4 linked regions of the Homo sapiens genome follow. The protein of the gene in region 1 interacts with the protein of each later gene in a pairwise test. Each region holds a gene or a part of one and is shown on either strand. Other genes may lie near its edges.

Region 1 (3,936 bases):
GCAGCCATGGGACTGGTTTGCTTAAGTGAAGTGAAGGTAATGCTCACTGGGTTTAATGAGATGAAGAAATGGAAGGTTAGGGTGTTGAATGGGTCTTTTACCTAGATATTTTGATCATCTAGGTCAAATGATCGCAGGAGTTGGGATGGACAGAAAGGTGAAGTGCCATAATCTTCAGTGTGGGAATATAATCTATAGGTTAATGGAAGCCAGTGGCCTGTAGGACAACAGCAGGAGTAGAGGGATCTATCTAAAAAGTATTGAGGTCAGAACAAGGGATTTCACATGAGTATTGGATTAATGGTTTTGGAAGTTAAAATGACACTGCTGACACCATCTTCCATATGGATTTTTGGGGGGAAAAAAAGGAAGACTGGAAGGGAATTGAATCCTCAGGGTTTTAACTCTCATTGAAAATCCTCTTGTAATGACCCCAGTTGGAAGTAGTAAACTCAGACCTCCTTGTGGGCTTTGAGTTACCATTAGAAGAAGCAAAGGTCCGTTTCCATTTTATCCACCTGAGCCCACTAAACAAGATGCAAGATTCCTCCATGGCCCTTAGAACAAAGTTGATTTCCTTGAAAACCTTGGGAACCCATAATAAACAGGACCCCAGCTGATTGTAGATCTCCTGGGAAGCTACTTAAAACTGGAAACTGATTTGAATAAAAGGATCCTGGTCTTGCAAAAGCTTTACTCTGTTCATAAATGTAGTCGTAAAATGAAGACAAAATTGATAATATGGGGACATAAAGGATAAAAGAGGAAAAAAATTTTTTCACTGCAATCTTTCGAGGCAGATCACTTTTATATAAGTCTCCATATTGTAAATGCAGAAACCTAGGCTCTGAGAGGTTATTTTGCTGATGTCATACAGCTAGGAAGAACCCCAGTCTGTGGGTCTCTACAGCCCACTCACTTGTGGTGATTCCCAGGGGACCAGGCTCAGGACGCAGGTGGGGAGCCCTGGGCTTACTCAGTGCTTGACTGGCCAGAGGGGAGAATCCGGGTGGCGGCCCCACCCTTGCCTAGCATTTGGGACCACCCATGCAAGGGAGGAGCCAGTACCGTCACTAGTTACTAGGCAGAGGGGTAGTGGTGGTGGAATATAGAGCTCATGTGATCCGTCACATGACAGCAGATCCGCGGAAGGGCAGAATGGGACTCCAAGCCTGGTGAGAAATTGAGAGGGCTCGGGAGAAAGGGATCACGTTGGAGGGAGCACACATTGGGAGGGTGGGAACACAAGGACAACGTAGCTCCCACTGAAACCCACCTGCTGCCCCTACAGCCTCCTAGGGCTCTTTGCCCTCATCCTCTCTGGCAAATGCAGTTACAGCCCGGAGCCCGACCAGCGGAGGACGTGAGTTGACTTAGCACAGACTGCCCCCTTCCCCATACCCTGTTCTGCCTCCCACTGTCCTGGTCCTAGCTTCTCTCACCCCCGTGCCAGCTCCTAGTACGCACTCCATAGCTTCATCTCTATGTTCCTAGCCTCAGTCCCCTATCATTCACCTCATGTGATCTGTATCTGCTCCTAGGATCCTCCCCAAGGTCTCAGCTCCTAATCTGGAACCTTCCATGACCAATATTTTCCATCTCCACCCTAACCAAAGCCATGTCCCTGACCCCTGACCCTACAGGCTGCCCCCAGGCTGGGTGTCCCTGGGCCGTGCGGACCCTGAGGAAGAGCTGAGTCTCACCTTTGCCCTGAGACAGCAGAATGTGGAAAGACTCTCGGAGCTGGTGCAGGCTGTGTCGGATCCCAGCTCTCCTCAATACGGTGCCTTTTGGGACTGAGGACAGGATGTGGGATGCGGTGGAGGGACACAGGGCTGGGTTGGGCATGGGATGGCGATCATGTCAGAGCCTGCCAAGACACTTGTGTTCCTCAGGCTAGAAACCTAAAAGGGGATGTGGTTCAGTATACAGGCTTTATGATCAAATACGAACTCAAATTCTGACTCTGCTACTTACTAGCTACCAGGCATCTAGTACAACTTACGTTCCTTCCCCTACCCTCAAATCCATTCTAATTTCCTCTTTTGTTCACATACTAAGGCTGCCAGTTCTAACTCCCAAAGAGCCTTTGGATTAATCTCCTTCTTGCCGTCTTTTGTTACGACCAACTCCGTTATTTATTCCCACTCCTGGACTACTGCCCAGCTCCCCAGCTGATCTGCAGTCTCCTCCCTCCACCCCACCCCTCACTGTACTCCCCCACTCTGCTTCAAAACAGTCTCTCCAACAGTCAAAATGGATTGGTTCCTTCTCCTGGTTAAAGCCCTTCACAGCAGGGGGAGTGTGTGCTTGTGAACTGCAGAGGCTGGGGACGGGGCAGTGTGACACTAGTGTGCATGGCAGGAAACAGTGACTCACCATCGTGTTAAGCTTAAAATCAACAAGTATGCAAATTTGAGCTAAACTGAATAACTGGTACCGAAAGATTTGAAAACATTTACCGGACATAAGCTTAAAATTAAAATGGAAAATTTATATGTATTAACCTCATTCATTTTCATGATCATGGCAATACATGCTGTGGTGCGACATTTGCAACTTACTGGCCTTTAGGGTAAATCCATATTATTGGCCATGGCATTTCAAGTCTCTCCAGCCTTTTCTTCCTCTGCTTCCCAAGTACACCCTACACCTGCACACATAGCCCTCCTTTACCCTGTTCCAGGCTTTGGGAAGTCCTGATGTCTCATAGTTGAGGTCCAAAAGGGGGAGTTTGGGAAAGCAATGAATGAGGGCAAGTGCCTCTTCTGAATCCCTGCAGGAAAATACCTGACCCTAGAGAATGTGGCTGATCTGGTGAGGCCATCCCCACTGACCCTCCACACGGTGCAAAAATGGCTCTTGGCAGCCGGAGCCCAGAAGTGCCATTCTGTGATCACACAGGACTTTCTGACTTGCTGGCTGAGCATCCGGTGAGAGGAAATGATTGCTCCATGGAGGGCACCAGTCATCCCATCAGTGAGATGGATGGGAGGGAGTTGAGAGCTTGCTGGGGCTTGTGGGTGGGAGCTAATGCATGGGGAGACAGTGACTGACTGCCCAGGGATGCTCAGAGGTAGCTTCTTCTGTTCCGTTTTGAGCTTTCTGACCTCTGTTCTCTGACCTCCAGACAAGCAGAGCTGCTGCTCCCTGGGGCTGAGTTTCATCACTATGTGGGAGGACCTACGGAAACCCATGTTGTAAGGTCCCCACATCCCTACCAGCTTCCACAGGCCTTGGCCCCCCATGTGGACTTTGGTAACACCTATGGGGTGAATGGGGGTTGGGGCACACAGATCCAGGGGCTGAGGAAGTTTAGATGCCATTGGGGACTGGGGGTGGGGTGAGTTGTAAGGTGGGCATTACAGTCTATAAGATCTCCTCAAGCCTGACTTCTCCCTACAGTGGGGGGACTGCACCGTTTTCCCCCAACATCATCCCTGAGGCAACGTCCTGAGCCGCAGGTGACAGGGACTGTAGGCCTGCATCTGGGGGTAACCCCCTCTGTGATCCGTAAGCGATACAACTTGACCTCACAAGACGTGGGCTCTGGCACCAGCAATAACAGCCAAGCCTGTGCCCAGGTGAGCCAAGCAAAGAGCCCCAGGGTCCTCATAGCCTCCCCACAGTGTCCTCAATTCCTTACCACCCTGGGACTCACCCTCGGACCCACGATCTCTGCTCTGACTCCCTCCATAGTTCCTGGAGCAGTATTTCCATGACTCAGACCTGGCTCAGTTCATGCGCCTCTTCGGTGGCAACTTTGCACATCAGGCATCAGTAGCCCGTGTGGTTGGACAACAGGGCCGGGGCCGGGCCGGGATTGAGGCCAGTCTAGATGTGCAGTACCTGATGAGTGCTGGTGCCAACATCTCCACCTGGGTCTACAGTAGCCCTGGTACTACCAAGAGGACTGGACAGTGGGGAAGGGGGTGG
Region 2 (2,523 bases), on another chromosome or scaffold:
TGGGGGACACCCAGGGTGCCCCAGGACAACAGCTAGGTGGGCAGACTGGATGCTGGCCCTGGCTGGTGGCACAGCATGGCTGGGCACACAGGGATTCTGCTGACTTGCTGAGCTCAGAGGCTTCAGAGAGGCAGTGCAGTCATTGTCCCTGTGCTGGCCCTCAAGGGCCTTCTATAGGAAGAAATAGGGCATGTGTGCACTTAGTTTCCAAGAAACAATGGCTTCCCATTGGGAGAGGCCCAGCCAACATCTCAGGTAGCATCTTGGGGTCCAGAAAAATCCTACCTTTCCTGGCCTTTCCGCTCCCACTTCTCTGGGTGGAAAGGGAATGGCCAGAAGCCTGTCACCCTCAGCCCTCACCTGAGCTGAGAGTTGTCTCTGAAAGTTCATCTTCTGATCCTCTGAGTGTCTGGATTTCTGCCACCTCCTCTGGGTTGCCCTGACCTGGGCTTCCTGGCCTCCTGCTCCTCCTTGCTCTCCCTCCCTCCCTAGGAAAAACTGCTCTGCTCCATGCTCTGGCCAGCAGCGACGGGGTGCAGATCCACAATACTGAGAACATTCGTCTCTTACTGGAAGGAGGTGAGGCTGGCGCGCTCCTAGGCCTCGTCCTCTCACCCGCCCCTTCGATGTGTGCTGTTGCTTTGCCAGGGTTGAAGGCCTTCTCCCAGCATCTCTTGTTCTATGGCTCTTCTAGGGGCAGACGTCAAGGCCACCACCAAAGATGGGGACACAGTGTTCACCTGCATCATCTTCCTGCTTGGTGAGACCGTGGGAGGGGACAAAGAGGAGGCCCAGATGATCAACCGCTTCTGCTTCCAAGTCACACGGCTGCTGCTGGCACACGGGGCCGACCCCAGCGAGTGCCCAGCCCACGAGTCCCTCACCCACATCTGCCTGAAGAGCTTTAAACTGCACTTCCCTCTCCTGCGCTTCCTCCTGGAGTCCGGAGCCGCCTACAACTGCTCCCTGCACGGTGCGTCCTGCTGGTCTGGCTTTCACATCATCTTTGAGAGGCTCTGTTCCCACCCAGGCTGCACGGAAGACGAGAGCCATGCGGACCTCCTGCGCAAAGCTGAGACTGTCCTGGATCTCATGGTGACCAACTCTCAGAAACTCCAGCTGCCCGAAAACTTCGATATCCACCCTGTGGGCAGCCTGGCGGAAAAGATCCAGGCCCTCCACTTCTCCTTGAGGCAGCTGGAGAGCTATCCCCCGCCCCTCAAGCACCTGTGCCGTGTGGCCATCCGGCTCTACCTTCAGCCGTGGCCTGTGGATGTGAAGGTCAAAGCCCTGCCTCTGCCCGACAGGCTGAAGTGGTACCTCCTTAGCGAGCACAGTGGCTCCGTGGAAGATGACATCTGATAGGTCTCAGGCTACAGGAACGGGGGACACGGGCAGCTCAGGTCAGCCTGTTGGTAGATGCTGGGACAGCATTAGAAGAGGGTCTTTTTGATCTGGGAGATGAGACGGGATCCTTCATGAGAAAAGCCAGCCAGGTAGAGCCTGAAGCTGTGATCACTCCAGTGGTGAAGGGTGCAGCTCTGGTTCTTCCAGAGAGACTGCCCCCTTCCCTCCAGCGGCACTCCAAGTCCCCCCCATGTTGGAAAGAGGAACAGGGCTTGGATTGATGTTTATACCCTCTGAATTGGAGGGCAGTGCCAGGGCATTTGCAGAAGCTGGGAAGGACCAAGCCTCAGCACCCCAGGGCTGCGGGGCTCTTGTTGGCCGCACGTGGCAGTGCAGCTGGAGAGGAAGCCTGGGGCACGTCCTGTGCGGTGCCACCAAGGCCCCACCCCTGCCCCTTTTCCTTCCAGGTTCTGTTACTCACAGAAGTGTTTCTGGTGGGCTCTGCGGGAGAAGACACTAAGGGCCCCACAGGCTTGTTTCATGGTGTTGCAAGCCAAGCTGGCCCCTGCCTGTTCCTGTAGCTCTGGGGCCAGGTCAGCCGTGGCCCCACCTACCAGAACTGTGCTCTGCTGGCAGCTGTGCTTTTGCCAAACCCAGGGCCTCAGCGACCATGACTTCTGCTAAAAAGCAATCATGAGTGCGTGGCTGGGGACAGACCTCTCTGAAGTGTCTCCTGTTGTGAGGGGCTCACTTTGGAGCCACTGAAGAGCCGACTGTGCCACCCACTTGCGAGCCTCAGTCCCTTCCAAGCTGCACTGGTCATTGGGAATTGTGTAAACACCTCTGGGGATAAGCTGAGGTGACTAAATGATATATTTATATTATAAGATTAAACTGACTTTCTTGGCCTTAACAAGGTCCTTATATAAAATTTCCACCCCGCCCCTCCATAGTTCAGGATAGAGGCTCCCACAGCAGCCGGTAAGGAAGTGGGTGGCAGGTGTGAGGGGATGCTGTGTTTGGGGGGTTGTTTCCAAGTCCCTGCAAAGAAGCACCACTCTAGACTGGCAAGGGCCTCCACAGTGTGGAGGTCCCATTTTATTATTTTTTTTTTTCGAGACACTCTGTCACCCAGGCTGGAGTGCAATGGTGCAATCTCGGCTCACTGCGACCTCT
Region 3 (3,500 bases), on another chromosome or scaffold:
TCCCAATTCTTCTGCATTAATGCCTGAGAACTATTGACATGCTGCATTCAGTTCAACAAATATTCAGTTGGCAAACATTTATTAGACAAAAAAAATTAGGAAACTCTGAGCTAGTATGTCTATGCCAGAATTTAACTTAAAGTCTTTTTTTGGCTTCTGATTTTTAGATTTTCCTTTAACTGTAATATGATGTAGTAAAAAGATTATTAGCTAGGGAATCAAGAAACCATATTGTACACATGAAATCACTGAGGCCCATAATGGTTCATTTACTTCCTGGTGGTCACTCAGAGATTTAATGGCAAAGGTTGAACTAGACAAAGGGCCCAGAGTCACCCAACCTTTAGGTAAGAGACAAAAGGCGCCAATGAGAAGATTCACTCCTGAGGCAACGCCCTGCCTCAGCCAAGGAGCTCTTACCTGCCCTCAGATAGGCATGCCCGTACTTCAAGACACTCTTGGGCAGCCTAGACCTAGCAAGGGGCCCACGTGCCCATCTTGGTCACCTAATGGGGCCAGACTGTGGTGTGCCCTGATCCCTGAGGTGGTAGCACTGAAGAAGCTGGACCCAGGAGGACAGAGGGCAGCCGTGCAGGCAGCATCCATGTGATCAGCATCACAAGAGCAGAGTAGGAGGTGGGATCTGGGGTCAGAAACCAAGACAGCGGAGCAGGGTCAGGGCAAGTGCCAGACTAAAATATGTGGGCAAATTTGAGGTCAAGGCAGGGATGAGTTGAAAGGAAGACAAGCAAGAGCTAGAGGGGAACTGCTGAGGATTTGGCCTCAAGGATGGAGTCCCACTGTGTGACCTCACAGTCAGGGGAGGTACCTGCCCCAAGCCGTGCCTGCCTTTTTAAATCTGAAAGGTGCTGTGTGCTGGGCTGCCTTCTGACAGCAGGAGAGTAGGAGCACAGCCTGAGAGGCGGCAGGCCAGAGCAGGAGGAACCTGAAAATGGAAATTTAGGAAACAATGGAAAAAACAATTATAGCAACAAAAAACCATTTTCTTTAAACTCTCACCATCCTCTAAGAGGAAGTCTGACTATTCATCCTGCCTGCATAACCCTGCTGAAACCCATCAACCCACACCCACTGATCACCTGACAGTGTCTGACTGCCCGGCTTCCTCTCATCCCACCACCTCAATTTCCAGAGCCCACCAAGGCATCACTTGACTTTCAAGTTCTGCCTGGACAGACTGCTCAGCTCCCTACCCGCCCCAGTTCACGTTCAGGTTCTTGAAATCAACTTTAGTTTCCTCCATGCCTACATCTATGCTGATCCCCTGCAAAGGCACCTGGTGACACACAAGAGCCAGAACCCAAAGGAGCTCCTCCACAGGATCCTCCCAGGGCTTAGCCACCAGGGAATTTTGTTGATGATCCCCAAGCTTCACTGCCCCATGCAAGTCTCCATTATCTCAAGGTTATCCCTGTTCAGGATCACTACTCTCCTGATTCTTGGCCTCCTAGTCCAAACTCATGGCTCCAGGGTCATGATGAGTAAGAGTTCTGGAAAAGTCTACAACCTCCCTTGAACCAGAGGTACCTTGAATCAGATGGAGGGTGACTTTCCAAGAATGCCTGGGCCGGTTCAAGTCTTCACTATAATGTTTGCCTTATGTAAAACCCATCACCTTGTTGTCCTGCACAACTTTCTTGAGTGAAGCACCTCTGATACTCAGATGACATTCTAATTGCTCACGAGACCTGGACCCCTGGGCCAGGAAAGCCCATGTGGTGGTGACAGCAGTGCTTCCAAATCTCACCCACAGGAGACAAAAATAGGAGTTCCATGGCATCCAGACAAGGTGTCCACATGCTGCTGGAGAGTCTTGGGTGGTCACAGAGTACAAAGTTCAAGGGCAAAGATTGTTCAGTGGGTCCCAAGATTTGACAAGTGCTACTGGTGGTCCCACCCTTGCCTCTCTACATTGATTCCATGTCCCACTTCCTCTCACACTATGCTGATAACGATCTAACCTGAGAAATTAAAAGTATTCACACAGCCTCTGGCCAAAGCTACAGGAAGACCCTGGCCCAGGCAAACTCTGTTCCTGCCCCACAGCTGTCATTTCACCTGCCCTACCCCATGGGAGCATGTACCACTGGTATCAAGTCTTCCTGCTGGGCCAAGAGGCACTGCCTCAAAGAGGCCCAGCATCCCCAGATAGCAATGTCCCACCACTGCAGTCAGGAGCAACTGGGCAAACCCAAAGACTCAGCCCCCCCATCCAGAAAGACCATCCCATTTTCCATCGCCTAAGTGCCAGACAGCCCAAACTGCTGTGTAGACAGCTACCAGGAAAACTGGAGCAATGAGAGACATCTGAGGTCACCCCAGCTAAGCTCAGAAGGCCACAGAGCTTAACTGCCTTCTTGACTGTGGCCCATCAAAAGGAGCCCGACACATCTAGTAGATGGCTTAAATAAAAAATACTGAGGTTACCAAATGCTGGCAAACATGTGGGGACACTGGATCTCTCCTACATTGCCTGTAGGAATGTAAAATGGTACAGCCACTCTAGGAAACTGTTTGGCAGTTTCTTATAAAAGTTAAACATATACTTACCACGTGATCCAGCAATCCTACTCATGGGTATTTACACAAGAGAAATGAAAACTTATGTTCACGCAATAAACTTTACATGAACATTTATAGCAGCTTTATTTGTAATACCTAAAAACTGGAAAATAGCCAAATGTTTTTCAGCAAGTTAGTGGGTAACACACTGGTACATCCACACCTTGAAATACTATTCAGCAATAAAAAGGCATGTGCTCTTTACATACAATTCAAATGGATCACAAGGGCATTATGCTGAAAGCCAATCTCAAAGAGTTATATGCTACATGATTCCATTTAGAGAACGTTCTTGGACTGACAAAATCACAGTGATAGGCCATGCACGGTGGCTCATGCTTGTAATCCCAGCACTTTGGGAGGCTGAGGCAGGAGTGCCCAGGAGTTCGAGACCAGCCAGGGTAACACAGGGAGACCCGCATCTCTACAAAAATTTACAAAACTAGCGGGATATGTGGGCGTGCACCTGTGGTCTCAGCTACTTGAGAGGCTGAGATGGGAAGACTGCTTGAGCCCAGGAGTTTGAGGCTGCAGTAAGCCATGATTTTGCCATTGCACCCCCAGCCTGGGTGACAGAGCGAGACCCTGTCTCAACAAGCAAAAAAAAAAAAAAATTACAGTGATAGAGAACAGATCAGTGGTTGTCAGGATGGGTGTGATTATCAGAGGAGGAGCACAGGGAACTGTGGTGGTGACTATTCTCTATTCTGATGGTGATGGTCATCACTCCAGCCTGCACATGTGATACGTTGCATAGAACTGTAGACATACAGGTACACACACACACACACAGAGTGCATGTAAAAACTGGTAAAATCACATAAGACTGTATCTGCGTTTATTTGAACTATACCAGCATCTGTTTCTTGGTTTAGCCCAAGTACTACAGCGATGTAAGACAACACTGGGGGAAGGTG
Region 4 (3,456 bases), on another chromosome or scaffold:
TTCCAGCTCTGGGATTTCTTGAATCCTTGCTGCATTCATCAGAAAGGAACCCTGTGTAATTTTGTTGCTTCTTACTTTTAGCCAGGGGTGCTAGCAGTGTCACAGTAGTTATCATTGTCCACACAATTGATACTTTGTGAAGTCATATCGCACTTGCACATTTTACATCAAATGCATGGTGAAAACCATTTTGAACTGGGGTGACAGAAATAGGAAAGTCTGGAGGAGCTGATTTGAAGGGGTAGGAGGTAGGAATGAAGATAGTGGGTAGGATATTGGCAAGATTCAGGTCCTAGATGCTAAATTGGCTGGAAAATTCAACTTTTACTTTTTTAACAGAACCATTTCAATATGAAGTCATGTTTGAAAAAATGATTTTAATTTGTAAAGGGTTATTTTAAGTTCATTACAAACAATAAATCATGGATGGATTCATTGTTAGCACATTATATAAATGTTATACTTAAGGTGTTTTGTTTTGTTTTGTTTTGTTTCCCTTAAATAGGAACAAGAATGGTAAGTCCGGCATCCTTAAGAAAACTCCTGGAATCTTGTAAAGATCTTTCTTTACTTGATGTGTCCTTCTGTTCGCAGATTGATAACAGAGCTGTGCTAGAACTGAATGCAAGCTTTCCAAAAGTGTTCATAAAAAAGAGCTTTACTCAGTGACTTAATATATGTTCTGTATTAAAATTAATGTGCTTTGTTGGGGTTTAATTTTGGGATTGGTTTTGGGTTTTGTTTTTAGTTGTTTTAATGGTAAGAATTAAGACATTTGTAGATTTTAAAGAAAAATATGAAATTGTCCATTAAATCAAGTAAAAATGTGCACAAATGTTTTCATAAAATACTGCAAGCACTTCTCTTCAAGAATATGAGTGGATATTATTTTTACCTTATGTTAATCAGTGATATGCTTTAGTCAATAATATGATTGATAAAAGAATAACATGGAATCATGCTAACTTATTTTCAAAGGAACACTGAGCAATAAAGTATCGTGGCATTTATGCAAAAAAAAAAGTTAATTTTTTACACCTTCATGTAAGGATGTCTTATTAAGCCTGTGACCTGGCAAGTGTTTTGTTTGGTATGTACAAAATGGTCAGAGCTAGTTGGAGAATGAGACATGCTTTTCCAGCTGTTTGGTTATTTCTCTGGATTAACTGTTCAACTGGAAAATTTTTAGTTTTTCTAGCCAGGTGTGGTGGCACACACTTGTAGTCCTAGCGACACAGGAGGTGGAGGCAGGAGGATTACTTGAGATGGGATTTTGAGACTCTAGTGTACTTATGATTGCACCTGTGAGCAGCCACTGCACTCCAACCTGGGCAATATAGCAAGTCCCTTTCTCTTAAAAAAAATTGTAGTGTTTCCACTTTTCTTCTGATATTTTTGTCTATTTCACTACTGGATAATGCCAATATAAAAATTTGGGTATAATCAAGAATAAGAGGTAAACTACTAAATAAAAAAAGCTTTCCAACTGTTAGAAGCAGATGCCTTAACATTTTGTGAAAGGTAAAGTTTTGAGGTTTCTGAATTATATAAAAAAACATAAATGTGGAGATATATATTATATATACACATTATATATACATATTATAGATAATATATATCCACATTTATGATTTTTAATATATACATGTATATATTATATATTATATAATTATATATTACATTTATATTATATGTAATGTACATGTATATATTATATACATATATATAATTATATATATTATATAGAGAGAGATATATATCTTGCTAGGGTGTGTGGATGCTGGAATATAACGATTTTGCACTTAACAGGACAATGAATTTTGTTATACTACAGTTAATATTAGTTTTGTGTTCAAAACAGCTGTGCCTTTTCATGCCACAAAATATTTTCTGTCTACTTTCTGAGTAGCAGAATTAATTCATTTTTTTAACAAAACGATGTATGTCAAGTGTTCAGTAGTCACATGAGGAGAATGCTTCCTTTGTGCCTGGCACTGTTTCTTGTGCTTTGCATTGACTAATTCAATTCTCACAACAACCCTGTAAGATAAATGCCATTACTTACCCCCATTTACAGATGAGGAAACTGAGGCAAAGAAAGATTGAAGAATTTATTTATGATCATACAGCTGCTAGTGGCAGAGCCAACATATAAACCCAGGCCATCTGGCTTCTGAAGCATTGCATTAAACCTGTGCTTTTAGGTGTTCAGGGTAGCTTCTGGCTCTAGGGCAGAGGTCAGGAAACTTTTTCTATAAAGGGCCAGATAGTAAATATTTTAGGCTTTGTGGGCTAAGAGGTAAAACTGAGATTGTTATGTAGATACTTAAATAACTAGAGAGAAATAAAATTTGCACGAAAATTTTATTGACAAAATTCAAAACAATAATTTAGAACAATTTTTTTTGTAATACGGGTTTACTAATGAAAAGAATTAAATATTTACAGGGAGGATCAAAGTTAATGTTTCGTGTCATTAAAGTTGATTGTAAGTACTCATTTGTTAATGCTGATCTGTAATAAGATTTTATGTATTTTACTTCTGAAAATTCCTTGCAGATAGGTATTGTCAAATACTTACATTAATCCATGAGAATATGATTTTTGTTGAGCATATTCATCACTTGAAAGGTTACTTCTTCTCTGGATATTTTCCTTTTAGCATGTTATTACATTGCAGCTTAATCACTTCCAATTGAAGACTAGGCAGAAGCTCCTCAATTGCACTGTTAAATTGATTTTGAAAAATGGAAATTTCCTTTACATTTGCAAACTCCAAAAAATACTGCAGGCACTATGGTGTGAGCTACAAATTTGTGTGAGAGTGGAGATCTCGCTTCTTTGTCTTACCTTTTGATAGCACAGGAAATGTGTAAAGCAGCTTGTTGTTACTTGTAATTCAAACAATGTTGTCATCAAAATGACTTATGTTTTGCTTGTAAACACGTTTTGCCTTGTAATTTTGGCTTGAATTCATTTCAAAATTTTATTAAGTCTTGAGCAAAAGCTAAATTCCAAAGCCATTCAGTGTTCCATAATAGTGATTGAGGACATGTCTTCTTTTTCAGAAAAATGTCAATATCAGCCCTGAACGCAAAAGCTCACAATAGAACTAACACTATTATGCCAATGTGGTTGGGCAAATCAGCATATTCATCTTCTGTATCTGACAAAAGATAACTGAACCATTGATGTTTAATCTATCAGAAACTATGAGAGCAAATGAAGTTCACCATTGCTACCAGTAGTTCAGTAATACAAAATTGAATCAAATATATCCCACAAAGTACCTGCTGATGAATAATACAGTAAATAACCATAGATTTTAAATACCTTCTTACCTTTTCACAGGCTTTATAAATTTGACAAACGTAATCATTTTGCTTCACACATTTTTAACACCACCAGTTGTAACACATCTTAGCAGATTCTACTTCAGGTTGCATGAAATTTGTG

The links. Proteins that work in one complex are often made in the same cells at the same time.
Region 2: the proteins of TPP1 (region 1) and ASB6 interact in binary tests that used the Homo sapiens proteins (3 or more experiments, as listed by UniProt).
Region 3: the proteins of TPP1 (region 1) and ZBTB38 interact in binary tests that used the Homo sapiens proteins (3 or more experiments, as listed by UniProt).
Region 4: the proteins of TPP1 (region 1) and FBXL4 interact in binary tests that used the Homo sapiens proteins (3 or more experiments, as listed by UniProt).

What each region holds. Positions count from the first base shown.
Region 1 is NC_000011.10:6,616,623-6,620,558, reverse strand, and holds the start of TPP1 (tripeptidyl-peptidase 1 preproprotein), read left to right. Parts: upstream 1-1,136; 5' UTR 1,137-1,158; coding exon 1,159-1,175; intron 1,176-1,291; coding exon 1,292-1,363; intron 1,364-1,643; coding exon 1,644-1,783; intron 1,784-2,782; coding exon 2,783-2,933; intron 2,934-3,130; coding exon 3,131-3,258; intron 3,259-3,405; coding exon 3,406-3,584; intron 3,585-3,699; coding exon 3,700-3,898; intron 3,899-3,936. UniProt on the Homo sapiens protein: Lysosomal serine protease with tripeptidyl-peptidase I activity. May act as a non-specific lysosomal peptidase which generates tripeptides from the breakdown products produced by lysosomal proteinases. Requires substrates with an unsubstituted N-terminus.
Region 2 is NC_000009.12:129,636,629-129,639,151, reverse strand, and holds part of ASB6 (ankyrin repeat and SOCS box protein 6), read left to right. Parts: intron 1-492; coding exon 493-579; intron 580-694; coding exon 695-1,362; 3' UTR 1,363-2,523. UniProt on the Homo sapiens protein: Probable substrate-recognition component of a SCF-like ECS (Elongin-Cullin-SOCS-box protein) E3 ubiquitin-protein ligase complex which mediates the ubiquitination and subsequent proteasomal degradation of target proteins.
Region 3 is NC_000003.12:141,375,004-141,378,503, forward strand, and holds part of ZBTB38 (zinc finger and BTB domain-containing protein 38), read left to right. Parts: intron 1-3,500. UniProt on the Homo sapiens protein: Transcriptional regulator with bimodal DNA-binding specificity. Binds with a higher affinity to methylated CpG dinucleotides in the consensus sequence 5'-CGCG-3' but can also bind to E-box elements (5'-CACGTG-3').
Region 4 is NC_000006.12:98,871,491-98,874,946, reverse strand, and holds part of FBXL4 (F-box/LRR-repeat protein 4), read left to right. Parts: intron 1-505; coding exon 506-669; 3' UTR 670-3,456. UniProt on the Homo sapiens protein: Substrate-recognition component of the mitochondria-localized SCF-FBXL4 ubiquitin E3 ligase complex that plays a role in the restriction of mitophagy by controlling the degradation of BNIP3 and NIX mitophagy receptors.